Homo sapiens: one gene and its partners. The protein of the gene in region 4 purifies or fractionates together with the protein of the main gene of each other region. This does not show direct contact. Each region holds a gene or a part of one and is shown on either strand. Other genes may lie near its edges. The genes, in order: GLB1L2, DIPK1A, CDC42SE2, HSD11B1, RAB18, NHLRC3 and MANEA.

Region 1 (3,500 bases), on a different chromosome or scaffold from region 4:
TGAGACAGAGTCTTGCTCTGGCACTCAGGCTGGAGTGCAGTGGTGTGATCTTGGCTTACTGCAACCTCCGCCTCCCGGGTTCAAGCGATTCTCCTGCCTCAGCCTCCCGAGTAGCTAGGGTTACAGGTGTGTGCCACCACGCGCAGCTAATTTTTGTATTTTTAGTAAAGACAGGGTTTCACCATGTTGGCTAGGCTGGTCTGGAACTCCTGACCTTGTGATCTGCCCACCTCGGCCTCCCAAAGTGCTGGGATTACAGGCATGAGCCACCGCGCCCGGCCTTCCCTATCTCTTTCTTAGGAATGTTACCAAGCATATTTTGAAAAGTCCAAGTATTTTGATAAAGTATAAGAGAAACAAATTCTTGTTATGGTTTTGTCTTCCTATCTCGGCCCACGTGTGTCATCTTCCCAGTGCTAGTCTTGGCTGAGTTTGGTGTTCTGTGGTTGGAGTGGAAATCTGGACAGGAATCAGCTGGGACTTCATTCATTCCTCATCCTCAACATTGTGGCCTTTAAGATTTTCTTGTTAACTGGTGTAACCTTTCTCAGCCTCCCAGTGTACCAGGTGGTTAGACCCAGACTGCCTCAGGGAAGAGGCTGATCCTTGTCCCCAAGCCGTCTCCCCTCCCCTGGTCCCTGGGGAGCCCTGGGCTTCTTTTCCTCCTGGTTTCCAGCATGACCCGCCCTTCCCTCGGGGGCATAGCTTCTGTCTCCACTACCCAGGGCCACTTCTCAGGCACTGATCCATCCAGCCTGGTAGGCTCACCCTAGTCACGAACACAGCCAGGGCAGCCTCTCCCATCCCTGTGGATTAGAAAGCTGTGTGCCACCGTCAGCGATTTCCTCGGCTCAGCCGGGGCCGGGCACAGGAGGACGAAGGGTTTAACAGTCTTAACTTAGAAGCAGTGGGGAGCTGTGGCACTCAGACTCCCCCTTCTCACCCCGCCCATGTGGCACCTGGCCATGCATGAGAGGGGCATGTGGGCACACCTGCGGAGGGGGCGTCCGGGCGTGAGTGAGAAGGCTAACCTGTCAGGTGGGGTTAGAATGTGGGGGTGTCGGTCTGGAGGAAACTGCTCTCTCCTCACCCCTTGTTTGACCCACAGAAATGGGATAATTTCCTGACCCTGTTTAGGACTTCCAGACCAGGGCAAGAGGAGCCTCAGAGCCTTTTGTTAGAAAATATGTGTCTTCTCAGAACCTGAAGTGAGAAGGAAGAGCCCTGACTCCAGCTTTGGAACCAATCCACGCTGCTGTGTTCCTCTGGGGAGTTTGGGATCATAGCAACAGGGTGGAGGGAGAATTCAACTCTTGCTCACCTGCTGCTCTGGGCTGTGCGCCACTGATGCCAAGGCGTTAGCCACGTTGGCAAGGATGGGGACTGCCTCCTGCTCAGCCCCTCGCAGTCTCTGTCAGGCTTGTTTTTTGGGGTGACGCTAGAAGGTTGTGTCTCCTCCTTCCACAGCCTCAGTGATTCCTAACCCTTTTGACTTCACTTTTTGAAATGGGATCACAGAGCAAGTTGTTGAAAACTAGGCCTGGAGTCCTGTGAAAAGCTTTTCTCACTGCTGGCAGCCAGGCCCTGTAGCTGTGGAGCTGGAAATGAACTTCCACCAGGCTGTGTCCTTGGGGAGGGAAGCTGCAGGAGTGCGGGTGGGTGCTCGCCCCAGAATCGGTTTGCATTGTCTCCCCACTTCTGGGCTCAGTGGGGTGGAGGAGGGCACAGGTCATTCTGGAGCACTGGGGGGCCTCTCCCTTCTCACGCATCAACAGCCTGCTCACAGCAAACCCACTGTGACACTAACATCCTTCCTTTCCCCCGTTTACACTTCAAGCTGGCTACTCCAAGACCCTGGCATGAGGCTGAGGACAACTTACAAGGGCTTCACCGAAGCAGTGGACCTTTATTTTGACCACCTGATGTCCAGGGTGGTGCCACTCCAGGTACAAGCAAATGGGGTCTTCTTTGATCTTGGTCTGTCTTCCTCTAGGTCGTGGATCATCCTTGGTTAGTTCTCAGACCAAGGGTCCTCCAGTGTTTTGAACACACGAGCAGGCTCTTCCTCACCGTCCGAGACTCGTAACTGAGGGGCTTGCAAGAGTTGTCTTTGGAAAGATCTGTGCATTTCAGTGTTGTCTCACTTGGGTGCGTTACTGAAAGGACAGACAGATGTAAGGGCTCACATTGCCACATACAGCACTGGAGAGACAGGGATGCTGTGATAGCCGGGAACACGCATCCACTGGCATCTCCATGGTTCCACAGAGACAGGGATGAGGTGATAGCCGGGAACACCCATCTATCTACCAGTGTCCCAGTAGCACTGCGGCTCAGTTTTGCACAGGGTGGAGCACATGTGGATTAACCTTTGCCTATAAGACTGCAGGACTTTTTATAAATTATAAAATTCCTTTCGCTGACTTTACGAGATACTTCCCTCTGCTACCAAAAAGGTGCTGCATGGTACACACTTACTATTCAAAACATGCGTTAAAGTACGTTTTGGGGGAGGAAGTACCTTAATATTTTATATAATAATTGGAAGCTTTGGAAAGCAGGAATGGGAAAAATCAACCCAGTTGCTGTGTAAAACCAGAAAGAACGGCATTGAGAAATTAGTACATCAATAAAAAATTAGTTCAAGTCAGTGGTATGGAATACTCACCACACACATAAATCAAAGGGAACTGCCAGATGAAACACAGGATGCTCAGTTATATTTGAGTTTCAGATAAGCAAGGAATAATTTTTTAGTGTAAATATATTCCAAATATTGCATGGGTCATACTTACACTAAAAAATTATTTGTTGTGAATTCAAATTTAACTTTATGTCTGGTATTTTTGTTTACTAAATCCGGCAGCCTTAACCATGACAGAAGCAAGGAACTAGGAAGTCATTAGCCTAGATCTTGCTGGGAAGCTGGGGATCAGCAGGTTGTAGGAGTCGGGTGGGCAGCAGGATGGCCGTCCTGGGAGCAGGCTCAGAGGCACTTGCAGACGTGCAGCGGGTCACCAATGCATCTTTTTGAAATAAACGATAACATAATTATTATTATTTAACATATTTAAATAATCACATAGTTATTTAATTTTTGTGACTATGGGATAGTATACATAACATAAACTTTGCCATTTTAACCATTTTGAAATGTACAGCTCAGCGGCATTGAGTCCACCCACACTGTTGTGTGCTCATCTCCACAGCCTTAGTTCAGGCTGCCACAACCAAACACCTAGACTGAGTGGCTTACAGACAAAGAAATTCATTTCTCCCAGTTTTGGAGAGTGGGAAGTCCAAGAACAAAGCACTGGCAGATTCGGTGTCTGGAAGGGCCCCCTTCCAGGGCATATACGGCCATCTTCTTGATGCAACCTTACATGGCAGAGAGCGTCAGAGAGCTCCCTGAGGTCCCTCTTATAAGAGCACTAGCCCTGTTGGCAAGGACTCTATGCTCATAACTAATCACCACCCAAAAGTCCCACCTCTGAATACCG
Region 2 (4,101 bases), about 120 Mb from region 4:
TTTAAAACCTGTGTCTGTGTGTGGGTTGAGGGAAGGGGCAGACATGAAGGTATCTCTTCAGAACAAGGCACCTGAACAAGGCTTATGCAAAAACCAAGTGAGAATGAGTAATGGTTTGCTTCTGGGGAAACCCCTTCTCAGAGCAACAGGCCGGAATGAGCTCTAACGGGCCACCTAAACTTTGTTAGCATCACGCTTAAACGTGGTAGGTGGGGTAAAAAGCAGCCAAAAAAAAAAAAAAAAAAAAAAAAGCTGCTTCTTCCATTACAAGTCACTTGGATCAACAGCTGTTCTCCCACTAGGGTGGCTCTTTTTTCCCTTATTTGGAACTCATTGTCAAAAGAAAGACACCACACCCTGTGTTATGTAGCCTTAACCAAGCAGCAGGCCACGTCCCAGGCTCCCTGCCTTCAGGACTGTATTTAATTCGGTGTTTTTGTTTTTGTTTTCTTTTGAAATCAGTGTTCCTGGACGGGGCCAGGAAAACTCTGAAGCTGTCTTAAAAACAATATAAACCAAAAAAGTCGGAATTTTTTAAAAGTACATTTTTAAAAAAAGTTGTAGGCCGTTAGAGGCGAACTGGAGCGTGGTAAGGGGGGCACCGAGTTCAGCAGTGGGGCGCCCTGTCCGCGTTCGAAGCTGAGCCCAGTCCTGGGGGGATGCCCCGGTCTGCGTCTCCAGCTGCGGCAGACACCCCCTTCCCCCGACCGCCACCAAGGGCGAGGGAGGACGAGCCAGTCCCCAGGGAAGGAGCCCCAAGCTTCCCTTGAATTTCCAAACAACCCGTCCAGACACGTCCTGACTCCAGGAGAAGAGTCCATGGGGAGCGTCGGTGCTGCCGGGGCGGGTGGCGGGACGCGCAGCTGGGCGCAGCGCGGGGAGCCGGAAGCCGGAGCAGACTGCGAGGCCAGCGCGGTCCGGGGGTCGCCGCATCAGCCAGCGAGAAGCACGCCCCAATCCGCGCCGAGCGTGCGACACCCCCGCTGCCGCGGCGCCCCCTCCCGCCTCCGCGCGCCTCCCCTTTAAGCTCCAGGCGCAGTCGATTTGTGTCGGCGGAGGCGAGGTGCGACTCCCCTTTATGGCGGAGTCGGCAGCAGCCTCTCTGACAGCCGCGGCGGCCGGCGGGCGAACAGGGCAGGAGGCTGGGCCTCTGGCCTCTCGCCGCCTTCACTGCAGCCGGGCCGAGGGGAGCGCGGCGCGCGCCGCGGCGGGGGCGGGGGAGTGGGCGGGCCCGGCCGGGCAGGGGGCGGGGAGGCGGGGGGAGGCGGGGAGCCCGGCCGCCAGCGCTCGGGTCCGCCTCTGACTGCAGCGCGGCGGGGCGATGTGTGATTACCATGGCGAGGAGTCTCTGTCCGGGGGCCTGGCTAAGGAAACCCTATTACCTCCAGGTAGGCCGGCGGCCGCCCAGCCACCAGCTGCGGGAGCACCCGGCCGTGTGCCCTGCCGCGCCGCGCAGGACTCGCCCGCTCCCCTCCTCCCTCCCTGGGTCTGTGCCCGCCCGAACCCCGCTGCCCCCTGCCGTCCGGCACCTGGCGGCGCGCCCTCCCCAGCCCCCTCAGCGGCTCTGCCGACGCCCCCCACCGCGGCCCTCGCGGCTCCCGCGCCGCGGCCAGCCGGGCTCCAGGGCCCGAGTCGTCCCGCCCGGGTACGCCCTCGCATCCTGAGAGCCCCGAGACGTGACCTGGGTACGACCCCGCGCTCCGGGCATTGCCCGCAGCCCTGCGCCGCTCCAGGCGGAGCTCGACGGGCCGCCTTCTCCCTGGTGTTTTCGGGGCTTTCCCCCCTCCCCCGTGGGCCCCCGCAGGTCGGTTGCCCTTGACTCAGTGTCTTGGGTCTTAAGTCGGTGGTAGGAAAGGTGGTGTAGCATTCCTCCGTGTCTTAGAAAATTATGACAATTTGTCACACCAGTGTTTCCCCAGGCTCCAAAAAGCAGCGTGTGCCTCGTGCCGAGCCCCTTGGTTGGGTCGTTCCATCACACCCAAGATTTAAATGGGAGGTGGAGACCGATAAGCCTGAACCAGGCGGATGGGTGTTTGCTTTTTAAAGGAAAGGGGCTAGTGGCTGGTCTGTGGATCCCAAATACCCTAGTAATGCAAACGTAATTCTCAGTCATGTCGTGTGTACGGTTCGCGTGTTAATTTTTCATGATTTCCCGTTCCACCCTCTGTTCCGCTGCCAGTCTGTGCCTTGGAACCCTACTACTGCCTAAGTGTACTGTTTGGTCACCAGGGGGACCTAGTAGACACCGCGAGTAGCTGAGCGCAAATCCATCACTCCGATGGAAAAACAACTACAAATCAATGCCTTGCGTGGGTCAGCAGTGTTAGCCAACGCTGCATTCAGAGGACAGTATTCCTTTACCGCTTACATTAAAAGGCCAAGAGGTAGATGATTTGGGGTCAGCTGGTGCTTTTATAAATTATGAAAAAAGTTGAGAAGGTAACCATCATGAGGCAAGTAAATCTTACATTTTTGTTTGAAAATTGTATGTGTAAGTCATTACCCTGAAATGAGTGACGTATTGCAAATTGGAAGCATGATTTGACAACCCATGATATTAAGCGTGTACGAATAAAACTGAGTCTTTGTAGCAAGCACCACCAATAGTAATTGTGCACTTGAGTAACACTGTCACAACCCCTTCTAGAATTCAACCCAGGCCAGGTACCTCTGTGTAATCTTTTATGTGAGTTTAAAAAAAAGCTTACCGGCCAGGCGCGATGGCTCACACGTGTAATCCCGGCACTTGGGAGGCCGAGGCGGGCTGATTCCTTGAGCTCTGGAGTTTGAGACCAGCCTGGGCAACATTGTGAAACCCCGCCTCTACTAAAAATACAAAAAAAAAAAAAAAAAAAAAAAAGTTGGTTGGGTGCCTGTGGTCCCAGCTACTCCGGGAGGCTGAAGTGGGAGTATGGCTTGAGCCCCGGAGCGGAGATTGCAGTGAGCTGAGATCACGCCACTGCACTCCAGCCTGGGCAACAGAGTGAGACCTTGCCTCTTAAAAACAAAAACAAAAACAAAAAAACGGCCAGGCGCAGTGGCTCATGCACTTTGGGAGGCCGAGGCGGGCGGATCACGAGGTCAGGAGATCGAGACCATCCTGGCTAACACGGTGAAACCCCGTCTCTACTAAAAATACAAAATATTAGCCGGGCGTGGTGGCGGGCGCCTGTAGTCCCAGCTACTCGGGAGGCTGAGGCAGGAGAATGGCGTGAACTTGGGAGGCAGAGCTTGTGGTGAGCCGTGATCGTGCCACTGCATTCCAGCCTGGGCGACAGAGTGCGACTCCGTCTCAAAAAAAAAAAAAAAAAAAAAGTGTTTTACTGTGGAAATTTGTATACCTTCAGAAAACAGAAAACAATAATGAACTGTCATATGCCCATCAGCCACCCTCATCAGTATTTTATTTCATTTCACCTCCCCCACTCCCTCTTCCAACCAAACTTATTTATTTATTTATTCATTTATTTATTTATTTAGAGACGGGTCTCCTTCTGTTGCCCAGGCTGGAGTGCAGTGGTGCCATCTGGGCTCACTGCAGCCTGGACTTTCCAGGCTCAGGTAATCCTTTCACCTCAGCCTCCTGAGAAGCTGGGACTACAGGCGCACACCACCATGCCCAGCTAATTTTTTTAATTTTTGTAGACACGGAGTTTCGCCGTGTTGCCCAGGCTAGTCTCAAACTCCTGGGCTCAAGCAGTCCTCCTGCCTTGACCTCCCAAAGTGATGGGATTACAGGCATGAGCCATCAAGCCTGGCTGAACCAAAGTATTTTAAAGTAAACCTCAGGCATCACATCATTTCATCTCAGTACCTCAATATACATTTCTAATAGATAAAGATATTTTCAGACATAATCATAATACCATTATCATGCCTAACAAAGTTAATAACAATTTATTTTTCCCACCCCTTTCTAGATATGCATCAACCTGAGATTACTAACTAAATTTGATTTGCCATGGAGTGAGTTTACTGTGATTTGGATGGGTCTCTCTGCAAAAAGCAAAACAAAAAACCCTCCTCTTATCAGCTCATTCATGCCACAAATTCTTATGAGGGAAACTAGTTTGATTTCATGTTTTGAAAGAATGTCTTAGA
Region 3 (3,500 bases), on a different chromosome or scaffold from region 4:
GTTTAATGGGTGGAACTTGGTAAGGTTTAAGCAAAATACAACTTTCACTGTGCCTTCAAAACTCTCCCTGTAGACTAAGTCTTTCTCTGCTTCTAGATGAGCTTTTAGCGTGATCAGATAGCTTTTTAAGTCACTTTTAGGTAACAAAAAGTCTTCTGGTCACTTGTCAATAATAGTTTTATTTTAGTCATTAAAAGGTACAGTATAGTAGTGTTCAAACTCTTGTAGATTTCAGAACTTTTCTTTGGCTCAAAACTGCTTTGAACCTAGAAGCTTGTTTTGGAGGAAGAGTCGTACTTAGTTGGCTTCTCTTTTTACTTTGCCAGGTCTTCTTCAGTATGGTATTCCTACCACTTCAGGATGCAGCTTAGGATTACAGAGAAAAGATATAGGGGGGAAGGTGGGGGAAGGTATAGTTTTATTGTGGCTTATCTGATTGTGATCTGGCATTTTTGCCTTCTGAGTTGGCGAGGTTGTGCAAAGCTGACTCTTTCTTCAGGAGTGCTGGAAGTGGTTGAGGATTCTATGTCTAGGAAGCTCCAGCTATAATTCCTGTGATACAGTTCTCCAGCTCCAATTTAGCCTTCCAGTTTCCTTTATCTTGCAGGTTCACTTTGCCCAGGGTGAGATTTTTCTTTAGTCTTTAAGGTAGTTCTATAACATTTTAACCAGAACTGCCCATGCTTTATTGAGGATATTTCATAGACACAATTTCATTAATTCCACTGGGGTCTCAGCATCCTGTCTTTCCAACTCCTTCCATAAAATGCAGTAGACCCTCCAAATCATCAGATTTCACATCTGAGGATTTAGCCAGCCAAGGATAAAAAGTATTTAAAAAGAAAAAACAGAACAAAAAGGGTAAAAAGCTACAGTATAACAATTATACATGGCATTTATATTTTATTAGGTATACATAGTCTAGAGATGATTTAAAGTATACAGGTGGATGTGCCTAGGTTATATGCAAATACTGTGCCATTTTATGTATGTAAGGGACTTCAGCATCTGGGGATTTGGGCCAGGGTGGGGCAGGGTTCCTGGAACCAATCACCCATGGATACCGAGGGATGGCTGTAAACGTTTCTTCAACAGTACTTCTGTATGTCTGCGATCTGTAATCCATTGCTGCCATCACCTCTTTGCTGTCCCAAGACCACCTCCTTCCATGTCCTCACTGGAGTATTTACCCTGCCTTAAATTTGTGGTCCACTATTATAATTTTGCCTTTTCATACACATTCAACTCCCTTGCGGCATTCTTCTGTTGTAATTCACCTGGCCAAACCCTTACCCCCACACCCTTTGTGTCCAGTTCTCCATCTGTTCCAGCATACATCTGGGAAGTTGAGCATGCTTTGAGGAAAACACACCCAAGCTGACCTGGCTCTCCCTTTAAATTCATGACCACTGACCTAAGGAGGGCCCTTTGTGTTGCTGGTTGTTTTTGTTTTGTTTTGTTTTGTTTTCGCTTTTTGAGATGGAGTCTCACTGTGTCACTCAGGCTAGAGTGCAGTGGCGCGATCTTGGCTCACTGCAACTTCTGCCTCCCAGGTTCAAGTGATTCTCCTGCCTCAGCCTCCCGAGTAGCTGGAATTACAGGCGCCCATCACCATGCCCGGCTGATTTTTGTATTTTTTTTTAATAGAGACAGGGTTTCACCACGTTGGACAGGCTGGTCTCGAACTCTCACTCCTGACCTCAAGTGATCCACCTGCCTTAGCCTCCCAAAATACTGAGATTACAAGCGTGAGCCACTGCACCTGGCCTAATCCTTCTGTAATCCTAGTACGTTTCCTGATTTAATCACCACAGATTACTTTTAATACCTCTCGTCAAACCTCTAGCCTCCCTTTTTTCCTCTTCATTTTCAGCTCATGACCTTGTTTCCTGTATGTTAAAAATGAAAGCGATCAGAATAAAACTTTTATACGTCTCCTTGTATCTTTACCCATACTTTGCCTTTCCTACTATTCTGTCATCATGGTCTCCACTCGTGCTCCTTTCTCCTTTTAAGGACATTGCATTGCTTCAGTATTCATCTCATTCTCCTGCATTCTAATGAGCTGCATCATTTCCCCATTTCTACTGGATTATCCCTATCAGCATATAGATGTATTGAAATATCTCCCATCTTTAAAAAAACACCTTTCCAAATGCCACATCTTCCTTTAGTTACTCCTCTCCAAAAAGGTAAATATTTGTTGTCATCCGCGCTCCCTGTCTTGTTTGGATCCACTACAATCTGCTTTTTTTCTCTTTCATTCTACCATAACAGCTCTTTTTGAGATTATTGAGTGACTTTGTTGGTGGTAAATTCCCTAGTTCTCAAGCCTAATCTCAGTGGATGTAGAAGCAATAGCAGCATTTGATGTGGTTGATAACATCATGTTTGAAATCTTCCCTTTGTTTCTGGCATATTACTGCCTGTTTTCAGTTTCTTTTGTTGGTTCCTTTTCATTGCCCCAACTTCTAAAAAATGAGGCAGTGTTTCAGGGACATATGTTTAGACCTCTTCTATATTTATATTTAGTTTTAGTCCCCTGTGATCTCATTCTGTCTAGCTAGAATTATATACATATATATATATTTTACATTTTTTTATAATTTTTTTTTTTTTTTGAGATAGAGTCTTGCTCTGTTGCCCAGGCTGGAGTGCAGTGGCGTGATCTTGGCTCACTGCAACCTCCGCCTCCTGGGTTCAAGTGATTCTCCTGTCTCAGCCTCCCGAGTACCTGGGACTACAGGCGCCCATCACCACGCCCGGCTTATTTTTGTATTTTTAGTAGAGATTGGGTTTCACCATGATGGCCAGGCTGGTCTCAAACTCTTGACTTCAAGTGATCTGCCCAGCTTGGCCTCCCAAAGTGCTGGGATTATAGGCATGAGCCACTGCGCCCAGCCTTATTTTTTTTTTTAATTAAAAAACTTTTTCTTGGCCAGGCGCGGTGGCTCATGCCTGTAATCCCAGCACTTTGGGAGGCTGAGGCAGGCAGATCACGAGGTCAGGAGATCGAGACCATCCTGGCTAACATGGTGAAACCCCGTCTCTACTAAAAATACAAAAAAAAATTAGCCAGGCGTGGCGGCTGGTGCTTGTAGTCCCAGCGACTAGGGAGGCTGAGGCAGGAGAATGGTGTGAACCCAGGAGGCGGAGCTTGCAGTGAGCCAAGATCGCACCACTGCACTCCAGCCTGGCGACAGAGACTCCGTCTCAAAAAAAAAAAAAAAAGTTTTTTTTTCTTGAGGCAGGGCCTTGCTCATCCTCCAGGCTGGAGTACAGTGGCGTGATCTTAGCTCACTGTGGCCTTGACCTCCCGGGCTCAGGTGATCCTCCTACCTTAGTCTTCCAAGTAGCTGGGACCACAGGTATGTGCCACCACATCCGGCTAGTTTTTTGTATTTTTATAGAGATGGGTTTTCATCATGTTGCCCAGGCTGGTCTTGGGCTCAAGTGATCTGCCTGCCTGGGCCCCCCAAAGTGCTGGGACTACAGGCGTG
Region 4 (3,500 bases):
ATGTCCCAAACCTGCTCTGTGACACAAACCTGTCCCATCCTGCTCAAGTTTTTCAATCTGTGCTGCCACCTTCCTCCCCGGTGAAGATGCCTATCTTGCTTGGCCTCTATGAGTGGCTTTTAGATTGAATTATTCAGAGCCAAGGATGCTAAAAAATGCTCGACAATGCATCAGACAGTCCCACACAATGAAGAATTGTCCCTCACCAAAGGCCAATAGTATCCTTATTAAGAAGCCCTGACACGAAGGCCTAGAAACAGAAAGGAAATATGGAGGGAAAATATGACTGTGAGTCTCCAACACAGTTTAAGGAAAGACATGAAGCCAGAAATCCAGGTACTAGCAAGCTATTTTATCATTTGTTCATTCAAGAAGAATGTGTTGATTATTTGCAAAATTTGTTAGCTCCAGGGAATCAGAGATGAATGAACAATGTGCCTGCCTTTAAGGAGAGCACAGCCTAATCACTGTGAGTAAAATGCTGTATTTCAACAGCTTTCAGAGGCAAGCAGTTGTAAAACATACTACTATTTTGTATACCAAGAAATAAAAACCCTTCCAATAGATCTGTAACATGATTTTTATCCCTTAGAGTGTTTGTTTTATGTTTGTTGCTACTTAGGTTGTTTCTAGTTTTTGTTTGTTTGTTTGTTTTTACAACTATAAACAATACAGTAACAACTTGGCTTACACTAGAATGTGGGTGCACAACAGGTATCTTGCCTTGGCCTTCTTGCTCCCTGCCATAGCCTTGGCATCTGGCATAGTGCCTGACTCAGAGTTGACCTTCATGCATATTTTTTGAATGAATGAATGAATGAGTATATTTGGGAAGCACTTGTTCAAGTTTGTTTATAGAATAAACTTCTCAGACATGAAGTTATGCTCTCTCTCCCTGACCATTCCTCTTGAAGTACTTAAGCAAATTTCTACTTATGGAAATCAATATAGGCAGCCCTCTGTATCCATGGATTTTGCGTCTTTGGATTTAAGCAACCATGGGTTAAAAATATTCAGGAAATAATTTTGTGTCTGTATTGAACACATACACACTTTTAAAATCTTGTCATTATTCCTTAAATAATACAATATAACAGCTATTTACATAGCATTTACATTGTATTAGGTATTATAAGTCATCTAGAGAGGATTTAAAGTATCCAGGAGGATGTGCCTAAGTTATATGCAGATACTATGCCATTTCATACAAGGGACTTGAGCATCCATGGATTTTGGTATCTGTGGGAGGTCCTGGAACCAATCCATTGAAGAAATTGAGGGTGTGTGTATATGATTATATTTAAAAGAAGGAAGCACAGCAAGAAGCAAATAATTTCTGAAATGAATTTCTCATAAAAGGTTATGAAAAGAGGCACAAAGCAATGGAAAAAACAACACACCCAACAACTTATTGAAATGTTTCTATGATTATAAAAGTTACACATGCATGCATACACACACAATGAAAATTTGGAAAATGAAGAAAAATATGAAGCTAAAAACAAAAATCATTCATTGTTCTGTAATTTAGATATAATCATGCTAATATTTTGGAAAATGTCCTTCCAGAGATATAGATACAGCTATGGATACAGATACAGATATAAATATAAATATATAGTACAACTAGTTATTTTCCTACTGCCAGACATTTAGGTTACTTCCAATGTTTTGCAATTTAAAAAATCCTACAACAAATGTTTTTGTACCTAAATCTGTGACTAATTTAATAGCTATTTCCTTGATATATTCTTGCACTTAGACTGGGTGAAATAAAGGAAACATTCTTTTTTTTTGAGATGGAGTTTCACTATATTGCCCCAGTCTGGAGTGCAGTGGTGCGATCTCGGCTCACTGCAACCTCCACCTCCCAGGTTCAAGCGATTCTCCTGCCTCAGCCTCCCAAGTAGCTGGGACTACAGGCACCCACCACCTCGCCCGGCTAATTTTTGTATTTTTGGTAGAGACGGGCTTTTGCCATCTTGGCCAGGCTGGTCTCAAATGCCTGACCTCGTGATCCGTCTGCCTTGGCCTCCCAAAGTGCTGGGATTACAGGCGTAAACCACTGCGCCTGGCCAAAGGAAACATTCTTAAGGCTTCTGGTACATATTTCCAAATTACCTTAGACAAAATGACAAATAAAGACCTAGACTTTAAAAAATACACAAAAATAAACAATTAAATGAATATAAGAATCATGCATTTTTCCTACTCTGAGTACAGTCATCTCTCAGTATTCAAAGGGGGATTGGTTCCAGGATCTTCTGTGGATACCCAAATCCATAGATACTCAAGTCCCTCATATATAAAATGATGTAGTATTTGCATATTACCTATGCACATCCTCCTGTGTACTTTAAATCATCTTTAGATTACTTATAATACCTAATTTGGTGCCTATGCCTTATATCATTTCTGTGAATTCAACATAGTACCCAGCATGTAGCAAATTCAAGTTTTGCTTATTAGAACTCTGTTAATTTATTTCCCCCCATTTTTTTTTGATCCACATTTGGTTGAATCCACAGATGTAGAACCCAGGCATGCAGAGTGCTGGCTGTACACTGATCTTGTCCTTTTTCTTTTCTTTTTCTTATTGTTAAGAAATTCAAGTGCCAATATTGAAGCTTAAGCACAGGATCTATACTGAGTCTAATTTGGGCACATTTATATTCTCCTTTTCTTAAGACCTAGTTTTCTATTTGTGTTTTTCCAAATAGAATGTATTTGTTGTAAGCCTTCTCAAACTCCTTGGTAAGGAAACGTAAAGATACAAATGATGGTAGAACCTTGCTATTTCCATCCACAAGTGCACTTGAATGAAACCTGTGGTCTAGCAGGGATAAGTAACCTCAACTACCTAAGTTCAGCCGAGCCTTTCCAGAAAAGAACATGAAGCAACAATGATTACGGGTAGCATTATATTATTCTCAACCTGCACTAAATTGTCACTGTCTTCATCAAAGAGTCTTCCTCCCTTTCAAATCTCCCCCACTCCTTTCTTTTTGGGGCTGATGCAGAACTGAATTCCTAGATAAATCTAGCAGATTCTGTCTCAATCCTCACAGTGTTGCCCAAACACGATCTCTTAAATTTAGACAACAATGATTATATTTTATAGAATAAATTTTCTGGAATTTTTATGCCCAGGTTGCTGATTTTACTCTGATCTCCTTCTTGGCATTCTTATAGGCCCTATGGATGACACGTCTACACAAACACATACCTCACCTCTGCGTACTTCTACCCATCCCCCCAACACACAGCTCAACCCTGTGCAGCCATCGCCACTCCCCATCCCTCATGTAAATGCTTACGTTCACATGGATAAACACTTCCACTCACCTCAGAAATCCTGGTTCCTGAAGATTATTTCTGAGGTAATTGGATTTAAGGGTAAAGCGGCATTTTTTCTTAGAAAAATGAGAACAACTGTGGCAAGGGATAAATTGCCCCTTTCCACTCTGGTTCTGAGGCCCGTTCATAATCTGGAGTTTGGG
Region 5 (3,500 bases), on a different chromosome or scaffold from region 4:
ATCAGGATTATGAAACTGGGGCTGCCACTTGTGTGACCTTGTGTGTGATACTTGAATGCTGTAGGCCTTCATTTCAAAAGCGAGGGGGTTGGAATAGAAACCTCTCAGACCCTAAATGTGTAAGACTCCAATTCTGTGGCTAGGCCTGGTAAGGTAAAGAGTAGCAGAATATATCAAGAACTGGAAGGGATTAGAGAGACCTATTATCTAAATTGCTGTCCCTCCTTTGCCCCTTGCCTTCCCTTTTTTTTTTTTTTTTGGTGAATTTCATATGTAAATTTAAAAAATGCAGATTAGTTATAATCACACTCTGTTTATTATAAATTTGGTCACATCTAAGTGCCATGGTGGTAGTTACTCCTTCCATCTCTACTTCTGCATGGGAAACATTTTGCTCCTTTAACTTTGAAAATATGAGGGTGTAAATATACAATACTATAAGAATGGTGCTTCTGCCAGGTGCAGTGGCTCATCCTGTAATCCTAGCTACTCGGGAGGCTGAGACAGGAGGATCTCTTGAGGCCAGGAGTCCGAGACCAGCTTGGGCAACATAACGAGACCATGCCTCTAAAAAAATAAAAATAAAAAAATTAGCCGGCCATGGTGATGCACACCTGTCATGCCAGTTACTTGGGGGGCTAAGGTGGGAGGATTAGTGAGCTGTGATTCTGCCACTGCATTCCAGCCTGGGTGACAGAGTGAGACCCTCTCTCTTAAAAAAAAAAAAAAAAAAGTGTGCTTCTTAATTATTTTGAGATTGTCAGTTCTTTTCAAAATCTAATAGAGAAATGGACTCTCTGTCCCTTTCAAAGTCTAATAGAGAAATGGACTCTCTGCCTAGAAAAATGCACACATAGAATTTAGAATACTTTTTGGGCTACCAGGGTACCCCTGTCTAAGATCTGATGTATACCCAGAGCCTGTATTAAAATTTGTTGCTTCACACCATGCCACCAATTCCCTGCCTCTCCTTACAAAGTACTGTTAATAACAAAGGCCATTTAAGGATTAGCAATTATGAGAGAAAAACCTCTGGCTTTGTGTCTGCACATTGCCATATGTTCAATAAATAATACCCAATATCATCATTATTGTATTATTATTATGATATTATTACAACTAGTCTACAAGGTAATCTTATGTTTTTGTAGTAATATTTTCTGTGGTGACCACGTGTAGATATTATGTATCTTTTCTTAAATTATGGGTAACTGAGTATGTTGGGAGAGAAGAAAAATTTTATAGGTAGTCTTTAAGAGTCTTACTAGTATTGTTACCTATGTTCCAAGTAACTAAATATAGTCAAGATGTTAAGTAGATAAATCTAGAATTTGACTCTTCTTTTTTACTTTGATTTTATGATGCTGGTTTTATGGTAAACACAAGAAAACAAAACCAAGTAAGGGAGAGTTAATCGTTCAAATATATTTAATGACACTGGGTTTGGAAACTACCAGGAGGCCATTATGTTTTGCAGAAACTCTATGGACAAAACATACCTCTACCAGCAATAATCACAACCTATAGAAAGAGTCATAAGATTTTTCTATAATTTAGATATCTGATGGCTGTTTCTTTGATTTTATTCATGCAAACAGGTCAATTAGGAGAGTCTTATACTTCAGAAGTTAACATGAGGGAAGATTGAATGACTTTAAAATCAAGGGCTTTAACAAAAGCTTAGATTTTATTTTTGAAGAGTTTCTAATAACTGACACTTCTGCTTCATAGTAAGTAAAATAATTCTGGAAGATGTAAAATCTTAGAGTACCCTTCTAATCTGGTGTCTTTTGCTTTTATCCTTTCTTTCTAGTTTCTTACCATTTCCTAGGTTTAGTCCTTTGTTCTCTCTTGCCATAACCATGGCGGTTGTCTTCCATTGATTTTCTTCCATTTTTTGTTAGTATTAACTTTTCAAAACAAAGAGCAGTACTTGTCTTAACTTTCTTTAAAAGCCTCCAGTAGCCTCCAGTTGCCTACTTGGTTTTACACACTCTACCTAGTGTTTGCCCGAGTCTATCTACTCTGTCCTGTGATCTTTCTTTTAACCTCTCTTTTTACTGTATCTTCTCTTAGGTAGTAGCCGTACTGCGTGTTACAGAATGCTCGGCTTTGATATATTTCTGGTTTTGCTTGAATTCAGAGTGGATTACACAATCAGATTTTTTAAAGCTAGTTTGTTGCATTCTAAGAGACTTTATTTTTTCCCTTTTCATCTATGTCAGTTAAAGCATGACATGCTGCTAATATCATTTTCTCAGAAGGACATACCAGAACAGTTAAAAAACAACTACAACAAAAACCCCCACCTTTTGTACTTGGGGGATTGTGTAGGAGAGCACGGGGAATATATTTCATAGTAAACTACTTTGCTCTTGGGATTTTTAAATTGCCTTTCTGGTAATTTAATTTTTCTGTGTATACCTGCTCTGAGGCAGTATTCCTAGGAACAGGCCTACATCAGTTATTTTTATCTGCATCTAATAATTTGTGACCAAATAATCATGAACACATTTATCATATGATTAGAAAATTCAAGTTCCCAACCTGTCTTTTTAATATCTCTTTCAGCCTGCTCTTGAGGTTCACAGATGATACGTTTGATCCAGAACTTGCAGCAACAATAGGTAAGCCTGTGTTTAAAAATTCTATAGAAATGGCCAGTATTTTCTTGCCTTTGGCCTTTTTAATCTAAATCCTTCTACCTTCCTCTCACCACCCCACTGCCTCCATGTCTGTTGAAATCTTATTTGTCCTTCAAGACTTAATTTTGGTATCATTAAATCTTTGAAGCCTTTCTAGATCTTACCAAGAGAAAATAACTTCCTTATCTGTTGTCTCATGATACTTTATTAAAACTGCTAATGTGATTATCTGTACACACATTTCTCTCCTATACTATGGATTGTCTTTTATTTTGTAATATACAACAGTTATTTGAATACTTATTGTATGCCAGGGACTGCTACTAAGAGGAGGGGTTATAATAGTGAATAACAAACTTGGTCTCTGTCATCGTGGACCTAACAGAGTGTGTTAATTTTGTATGTTCAGCATTTGCTACAGTGTTTGACGTGTATTCTTATCTTCACATATGTATTGATACTAGTTATTAAGGATTGTTAGGAGCAATGATACTTAAATGCCTTTTAAGGATAAGATTTAGATCGCCTGAAAGTGGTTAGTCACACTAACTTATGAGAATATATGAGAAGATAGAGGTAAGTATTTTGGTATCATGTGTTTAGACTGCAGACAACGTAAAGGGATGAAGAGACCACTTGGAATAGTTGAAAGGTAGCTGAGCTGAGTCAGAGCTAGATAATAGTCTTGGTTGACTTTGCCTTGAATTACATGTAATCTTGATGAAGTCACTTAACTTACTAACTTCATCTGTAAATTGGGAGGTTTTGTTAAAATTTCATGATCTGATGAGGAGAATATAGTAAAGATGATCCTAGCATTATTGTTAGGGAAAATAAAGAGTTTCTGTTAACTGG
Region 6 (3,500 bases), on a different chromosome or scaffold from region 4:
TTTATGATATTCCCTTATTAGTAGTCTGCTTTATGCTCTTGCTTGTAAGATAATTTTAACTTAAAGAAATTTTAACGTGAGAAAATAAGATACTCATGATTTACAAAGATTATTTTCTTCTTAGCAAAGAAAAGTTGGGTTGAATTTTGAATGTCTCCACAAGGTGAAAATGCAGTTAAAAAAAAAATCTGTACCATAGAGAACGTTTTTGTTGACTTACTGAAATTTAAGGTCTGTATGTGAGTGATTGAAATAACAGTTTCAAATATAAGTTGTTCCCTTTACATTTTCTTCTTGATTTCCTTTCATAAGCAATGCTTATTCAAGGTCATAAGATTAAAAAAGAAAATGGTGCACCAATACTTTGTTAGCATTCTGAGTTTCCTGTATAATGAGTCAATTATGGGGATGTTATTTATTTGAATTTAGAATCCGCTTATTTTGGACTAATGGAGATTTTAATTCGTGATCAAATTTGGCTGTAATTTACGAAGAAGCTATAGTGCTTGTCAATTATATGTAATTTCCTAAGCCTATCACCTATTTGTTATTATTTACTTCTATCAAATTTTTGCTCTTAGCTTACTTGAAAAATCTGAATGTTTGTATAGTGGTTTTATTTGTGAGATGTACATATCTATCTTTATAGGATTCTTTGGTCATACTGTTAAAAAATACAGTTCTTTTGGTGATCTTGTTCAAGTCTTGGGTACTCCAGGCAAAAAAGGCACTAGTTTGAATCCTTTGCAGTTTGATAACCCAGCAGAATTATATGTAGAGGACACAGGAGATATTTACATTGTGGATGGAGATGGAGGATTGAATAACAGATTGATCAAACTGTCCCAAGGTACATTACTTGTTTATGGTATTATAAAAATATTATAAATTGATTTTAATTTGTTCGATATTTGGTATAATGTTTTAAGTGTTGTGTATGAAGCGGTGTGTAAAGAGCTAAGTGTATTACTACGAGAAAACTGAAAAACAGATGGGTATGATTGCCCACAATAAATGATCCTGATAACAGGCCCACTTATTCTTCACCAAAGGCCAGGAGATTCCTCCAAAAGTAACTGGCAACAGTATGAGAATTTCTAGTGGGCTCAGGAGATAAGTGTGTATCCTATTTAATTAAGCATGTAGAAATTAGAAACCTAGAATCCCAGACTCAAGTATCCTACAGGCTGATTAATCAGCAAGCATTTTATTGAGTGCCCTTTCTGTGTCCTCTCTAGTATCAGGAGGTGCAGATCTATTATGTATTGAAACAATGAAATGTAGTCTATGCTATTGATTCTTAAAGCAAAATGGACTTAGGAGGAGAAACTAAATTGCCTGGAGAAATAGAACAAGATATCATGAAGGAAGTAGTTATTGAACTAAACTAGTTTTGGTGGGAGGAGAGGGGAGGATGGATGGAACATTCATGGAGGGTTTATCATGCATGGTCTACAGGCATTTATTAGCAGGAAAGAAGGTGAAGATGCACTTTTTCAGCAGCAGAAAATACAATTTGGGATGTTTCTGAAGTCTTATTTGAGGATTATTAAAGCCATGTTTTTGCCTATAACATTTTTGAGGTTTTCCTAGTAGAAAAGTGATGTTACAACAGCAGGTTTTATAAGACATTCTTTTAGGATCTACTTCAAGTGAGCTCTGTCATTTGGAGGCTGTGTAGTCAATTTATCAATTAGTAACTGAATTTGGTTGATAACAGTTGAAAGGGAAATGTAGAATAAGGATAAAGCAAGAATCCAAAAAATTGAATGAAAGAAACAACGAAATCTAGGAGACAGATTGAATATAAGTGTATTAGTTTCCTGTGGTTGCCATAACAAATTGCCACAAACTGCGTGGCTTTAAACAACATAAATTTATTCTCACAGTTTTGGAATCCAGAAGTTAGAAATCTGGTAGACTGTGCTCACTCTAAAGGTCCTGCCTTGCCGCTTCTAGTTTCTGGTGGCTCAAGCATTCCTTGGCTTGTGGCAGCAAAACTCTGATGTCTGTCTCCATATTCACATGGCGGCCCCTTCTTCTCTGTGTGTTTTTGTGCCTCCAGTCTTTCCCTTCTTTCTCTTAATAAGGATTTAGGGCCCACCCTAAATCCAGGATGATCTCATGAGATCCCTAATTTAATTTTATCTGCAAAAACTATTTCCAAATAGCATCACATTCCCAGGTATCAGGAGTTAGGACTTGGACATCTTTTTAAAGGACCACAGTTGAACCCACCGTAGTGCGTAATAAAGGAGATAGACGGTAAAATCATAATGTGAATTTTTAAGGTCTGTGGAATACTAATATCAAGTAACAGATAAGTTGGGAAGGGGAACCAGTTTTAGGGAGAGGATGGCATAAACCCTAAACAATGATTTTGAAGCAGTCATGAAAAATTCAAGTGGAGATAATAATTAAAGAAGTAGATTAATTCCCTAAAGCAGAGAAGGAACTTTAAAAAAAAAACTGTAAGAAATGGGCAAATGGGCATATAGACAGGAAAGCCGAGAAAGCATAGTCAAGTGAACCAGCGGTGTAATTAAATAGTTCTTTGTAACCTGTTTCATAAAATATGCAAATGCATGAGACATTCTATATGTTGCTCTGACTATATATTTTTACCGTTTATAGATTTCATGATCCTTTGGCTGCATGGAGAAAATGGGACAGGGCCTGCTAAGTTCAACATACCTCACAGTGTTACACTTGATTCAGCTGGTCGGGTACAAATACAGCGTCATTGTGTCTGGGACTTTGTGTCTGAATATGTTTGTGTGTGTGTGTGTGTGTGTGTGTGTGTGTGTGTGTGTCTGGGCATGTATATATAGATTGTGGTATACATGTGTGTCTGGGCATGTGGATACATGTGTGTTAGTGGGTATGTCTGGGTAATTACTCTGGGGCTGGGTGTGCACACATACTTTCTTACAAGTGTTTGAGTCCTATAGTGAGGGGGTTCCCCAAACATTTAGAAAGGAGCAAAATGGATTTCCTGTACCATTTAAAAGGATAGAAGGCACAAATAATGGATCTGAACATAAAGTTACCTGAAAGAAAAAGTTGCCCTCTTACTGGGAAAACTCCACTAAAAGTGTTTGAATATCTTTTCACTTCTCAAGAAAAAAATGTGCTGATCTAAAGTGGAGTGGGAGAGGTTAACCTTGGAAGTCTGAAAAAGAGTCACCTAGGCAAACTCTTGTTCTCACTAACTCCACATTGTTTAGGGAACAGAAAGCTTTAGCCAACAAATTTCAATCAGTTTCTCTCTTTTCTACCCTACTCACTACTATCTCTTTTGCATTTACTCAATTTCTAAGCATAGATCTCACTTCTTTGAGGTTACCTTTTCACAACGAAACCGCCACCAAAAAATTTGTATATTAGTTTCTCCTGCTCTTTTCCTATAGCAGCCTGTACTTCGTATCATAGTAACTATCATGCTATATTATAATCATTTGTCTGTCTCCCCTAATAGATGTCAGGCTGTTGAAAGTGCT
Region 7 (3,989 bases), on a different chromosome or scaffold from region 4:
GCTTTAGCAAAAGGGAAAATGCAAATTAAAAGAGCAATCAGATGCTCTTATCAGCAAAAACTTAAAAAGTCTAACAATAGCATAAGGGTAACGATGTGCCAGTCTAGTTTATGGGAAATGGACTTGTATACAGACGAATCTCAAAACCTCTCAAAACCTAAATTAGTGAAAAAAGGGGAAAAATGAAGAATGATTCACATATGAAATATAAAACTAGGAAAATAGTATTTTTAGGGAATCGTACATATGTAACTATTTTCAGAAATACAACGGAATGAGTAATATAAAATTCAGCATAATGGTGAACGGAAGGAAGGAGATGTTTTTAGAGAGTCTTCTTTCTAGAAGACTCCAAAAATACTGGCATTTTTTTTTTCTTAAGCTCTGTAGTGGGTACCTGGGCATTTTTCATTCTTCTTTAAGATATGCACATGAGATATACTCATATGTATATTTCCCAATTAAAATTGGTGTACAAAATCTTTTTAAGGAGAGCCCTTATGAAACTGTTCACATCAGCAAGTTCTAGCTTGAATAAGGACTTCCTGTTACTATGTAACCAAACAAAAGATAGCATTTTCTTGTTTTCTGAAGCTAATGTAAGATGGAAACCTTCAGTTGTAATCCTATTTCAAAAGTTCTTGCTCTTCACATCTGACTTATCCTCAATTATTTCTAGTACTTCAGTACAGATGTGATTTTATAGAATACATTCGCAAATTAAAAACGCCATCTCCATCTGCCTACCTTGGGCTTCCAAGTAAAGTTCTATTTTTACAAAAATCAAAACAGTTCCTCAACTTTAAAAGTTTGAAAACCAGTGTACTTGTAAAGCACTTGATGCAAGCAACTTCTGAATGTTTCACATAAAAACAAACAAAAATGTGTCCTCTGTAATACAGTTAGAGCCTCCCAACAGAGCCTCAGAAGACCGTTTCTAAAGGCAGTGAGTTCTACTTGCAGAAATAGGGCGGGAGTGCAGTCTGACTCCAATCCACACGTCCTTCCCCTCTGACAGAACGCCCCAAAACGCAGTCCTCTCTTTCTTCCGCGCCGCTCCCGCCCTAGTCCTCTTAGACCCGCGACCGGAGGCTCCGGAAGACCCCGAGCCCCGCCCGCTCCGTGACCCCGCCCCCACCCGTCCCGCCCCTGAAAGCGCCCGGAACGCTGTGCGCGCGCCTTCGGGGAGGAGGGGCTGTCTGGGCTCGGGGCGCGGCGGCAGTCAGCTCTATGTTCGCGGTCTTAACCTCTCCTCTGGCCGAGTCCTTGCAAGAAGTGAATTACCCGACCCTGGTGAGTAGCTGCAGGAGTCAGACCTCTTGGAGGCGGCGGCGCCAGCAGCGGCGGCAGGCACGAGGTCCACCGCGGGCGCCTGCGCGCTCGCCCGCCAGCCAATCTGGTGGCCGCTTTCCTCCGGGCGCCCTTTGACCCGGCGCCCCTCTGGCAGGCGCTGGTGGCGCCCAGCGGCGAGCCTGTAGCCCCCTCGATTAACCTAGGCTGTCACTCTTAGGCCTGTTTTAGTCTGCGTTAGTTTTACTGCCTTTTACACTGCTTTATCCCCACCTCACTGGCCTCGTCGCCGCCTCCTCTTTGAAACGGTACCTCCTGTCGCCTCGGATTTTCCTTGTCTCCCCGACAAGGTGGAAATTTCGGGTCGGATGGAAGCCTTTTTCAGCACCTTCTCCTTGTGCCCCCAGACTGCCTCTGGGCCTTGAGCCGACCGGGAGAGTAGAAGGATCGAGGCCTGCTGGGCTCTGGGTGCAACGGAAAGGTAGCTGTCGCCTCTGGGCATCGGGAGGAGACCGCCCGATGGCGAGGCCGCTAGAGATGGTTTTTCAGTTCACCTGTTAACGTGTTTGGCACTGTCATCTTAGACTCTTAGCCTTTGCTAAGTCGGGATGCAACAGTGCTGGATTAGTGTTTTTGTTGTTCCTTTTTCCAAAGAAGCAACTTGAAGTACAGGCAGGTATAACTGTTTGGTTTTGTTGTTGTAAGACCCTACGGATAAGTGTTAGGAGAAAATGTGGAAGTGCTATAAAACAACAACAAGGGGGGGATAATGTTGATTAAGAACTTGAAAATAAGAAAAATGGGACTGGAATAGGCTGTTCACGTTAAAGTATTGAGGCAGTAGTTTGAAACAAAAATATAAAGTAAAACCTAGATATTGGTGATACTGTATCACGTTGTTTGCAAATCACTTTCATGACAATACATCTATTTCAGGTGTATCACACCTGAAAAAAACATGAGTGCTGTGAATTTGTGGATTTTCAGGCTCAATGCAGAAAAACACCCCCCAAAACAAAAAATCACAACAATGAAAACACCATTTCCAGAGCTGTTGCTGTTATTCGTGTGACGAATAGTGAATGTATGATCATAAAATAGAATAAGCTGTCTTTAGATGAAGTTTGGGCACAGTTTATGGAGTAGGTAACAGTTAATCATTGTTTATTAGGTACATAATCCTTAATTGAAAACATAACCATATAGCAGCAGCTTTCATCTTGTGTCACAAAAATAACTGGTGTATCCTCTAAATTTGATTTGTCTAATACCTTAAAGGAAGGCAGAATAGCATGGACAAGAACTTGAGTTCTTGAGCCAGACTCGATCTGCTCCTTGCTAGGTGATTAACCTTAGATTGGTTTCTTGGCCATTTGCTGGCCCAGAGATTTTTGAAAAAGTTACCAACTGCTCAGCTTCATCATTTGTAAAATGAGGTTAAAAAAAATTCTGCGGCCTGGCGCGGTGCCTCACGCCTGTAATCCCAGCACTTTGGGAGGCCGAAGTGGGTGGATCATGAGGTCAAGAGATCGAGACCATCCTGGCCAACCAACATGGTGAAACCCTGTCTCTACTAAAAATACAAAAATTAGCTGGGCGTCGTAGCGTGCGCCTGTAGTCCCAGCTACTCTGGAGGCTGAGGCAGGAGAATCGCTTGAACCCGGGAGGTGGAGGTTGTAGTGAGCCAAGATGGCGCCACTGCACTTCAGCATGGCAACAGAGTGAGACTCCATCTCAAAAACAAAACAAAACAAAACAAAAAACAGAAACTAAACCTCACTGAATTTCTGTTAACCAGAGGGTACAAGTGTTTACAATAAAACTGACCTGGGCAAGGATTGATTTTGAAACTGATTTTGAAAGTTCCAGATGTGTCTTCTAGTATTGAGTTATATTTATCTCCGGTGGCTTCATACAAAATAAAATTAGAAGAAAACAATATATTTTTTAAAAAAAGCACCAGAAGTCTGTGTGATTTAATTTAGTTAATTGAAAGGGAAGTCTTTTTGGCTTTTGTGAGTTACATGATAAAAGCAAATAATTTTTGAAGTACTAATTCATACCACCCTGCTTCTGAATCTCTTGGGGTCTCTTAGCTAGCTGGATATGTCCAATAATTTTTTATTAGACATCACTAAGCTTCAAGTCAGCATTTCAAAGGATTAAAAGCACAAAACTCAAAAAATAGAAGCTACAGGTTCAAAAGAACCTATTGTGTATGAGTAATGTAAACAGTCTTTTGAGGAGAAAACAGATTTTCAGTAGCCAATACTTTGAGTAGGTCCCTGCCTTGGAAAGATATATCTGCAATAAACTTGTAATATTTTCTCTATGGTGACTTATAATACTTTTCTTTTATTGAAGCTAAATTAGTTCCTCCACCCCTTTCCTGCAAGATCAGACATTTTAGGCATCTCAAGGGTCATTGTGGTTTTACAGCGTTGAAGATGATTTTTTTTATTAAATTGGATTTTTAAAATTATTGGATCTTTACGATTCTTTATAATATGTTCAGTATACACCGTAAACTTATCAAGTGTGTATACGGTCAGTAGTCTATATATACACACACACACAGATATACATATATATATATACACACACACTGCCTGAATACCAATGAAACAGCAAAGAGCCAGAAATTAACTTTTTTAAAGCTGAACACTTAATGAACACTATGTGAAAGATATGTTATGCTC

The links.
Region 1: the proteins of HSD11B1 (region 4) and GLB1L2 purify together in Homo sapiens (affinity purification with mass spectrometry, with the first as the bait; one large-scale study listed by BioGRID). This does not show direct contact.
Region 2: the proteins of HSD11B1 (region 4) and DIPK1A purify together in Homo sapiens (affinity purification with mass spectrometry, with the first as the bait; one large-scale study listed by BioGRID). This does not show direct contact.
Region 3: the proteins of HSD11B1 (region 4) and CDC42SE2 purify together in Homo sapiens (affinity purification with mass spectrometry, with the first as the bait; one large-scale study listed by BioGRID). This does not show direct contact.
Region 5: the proteins of HSD11B1 (region 4) and RAB18 purify together in Homo sapiens (affinity purification with mass spectrometry, with the first as the bait; one large-scale study listed by BioGRID). This does not show direct contact.
Region 6: the proteins of HSD11B1 (region 4) and NHLRC3 purify together in Homo sapiens (affinity purification with mass spectrometry, with the first as the bait; one large-scale study listed by BioGRID). This does not show direct contact.
Region 7: the proteins of HSD11B1 (region 4) and MANEA purify together in Homo sapiens (affinity purification with mass spectrometry, with the first as the bait; one large-scale study listed by BioGRID). This does not show direct contact.

What each region holds. Positions count from the first base shown.
Region 1 is NC_000011.10:134,345,488-134,348,987, forward strand, and holds part of GLB1L2 (beta-galactosidase-1-like protein 2 isoform b precursor), read left to right. Parts: exon of another isoform or gene 1-361; intron 362-1,837; coding exon 1,838-1,946; intron 1,947-3,500.
Region 2 is NC_000001.11:92,958,663-92,962,763, reverse strand, and holds the start of DIPK1A (divergent protein kinase domain 1A), read left to right. Parts: upstream 1-1,301; 5' UTR 1,302-1,334; coding exon 1,335-1,388; intron 1,389-4,101.
Region 3 is NC_000005.10:131,270,553-131,274,052, forward strand, and holds part of CDC42SE2 (CDC42 small effector protein 2), read left to right. Parts: intron 1-3,500. UniProt on the Homo sapiens protein: Probably involved in the organization of the actin cytoskeleton by acting downstream of CDC42, inducing actin filament assembly. Alters CDC42-induced cell shape changes.
Region 4 is NC_000001.11:209,711,346-209,714,845, reverse strand, and holds part of HSD11B1 (11-beta-hydroxysteroid dehydrogenase 1), read right to left. Parts: intron 1-3,500. UniProt on the Homo sapiens protein: Controls the reversible conversion of biologically active glucocorticoids such as cortisone to cortisol, and 11-dehydrocorticosterone to corticosterone in the presence of NADP(H).
Region 5 is NC_000010.11:27,507,304-27,510,803, forward strand, and holds part of RAB18 (ras-related protein Rab-18), read left to right. Parts: intron 1-2,571; coding exon 2,572-2,627; intron 2,628-3,500. UniProt on the Homo sapiens protein: The small GTPases Rab are key regulators of intracellular membrane trafficking, from the formation of transport vesicles to their fusion with membranes.
Region 6 is NC_000013.11:39,041,456-39,044,955, forward strand, and holds part of NHLRC3 (NHL repeat-containing protein 3 isoform a precursor), read left to right. Parts: intron 1-649; coding exon 650-850; intron 851-2,634; coding exon 2,635-2,726; intron 2,727-3,500.
Region 7 is NC_000006.12:95,576,346-95,580,334, forward strand, and holds the start of MANEA (glycoprotein endo-alpha-1,2-mannosidase), read left to right. Parts: upstream 1-1,189; 5' UTR 1,190-1,293; intron 1,294-1,877; exon of another isoform or gene 1,878-1,966; intron 1,967-3,989.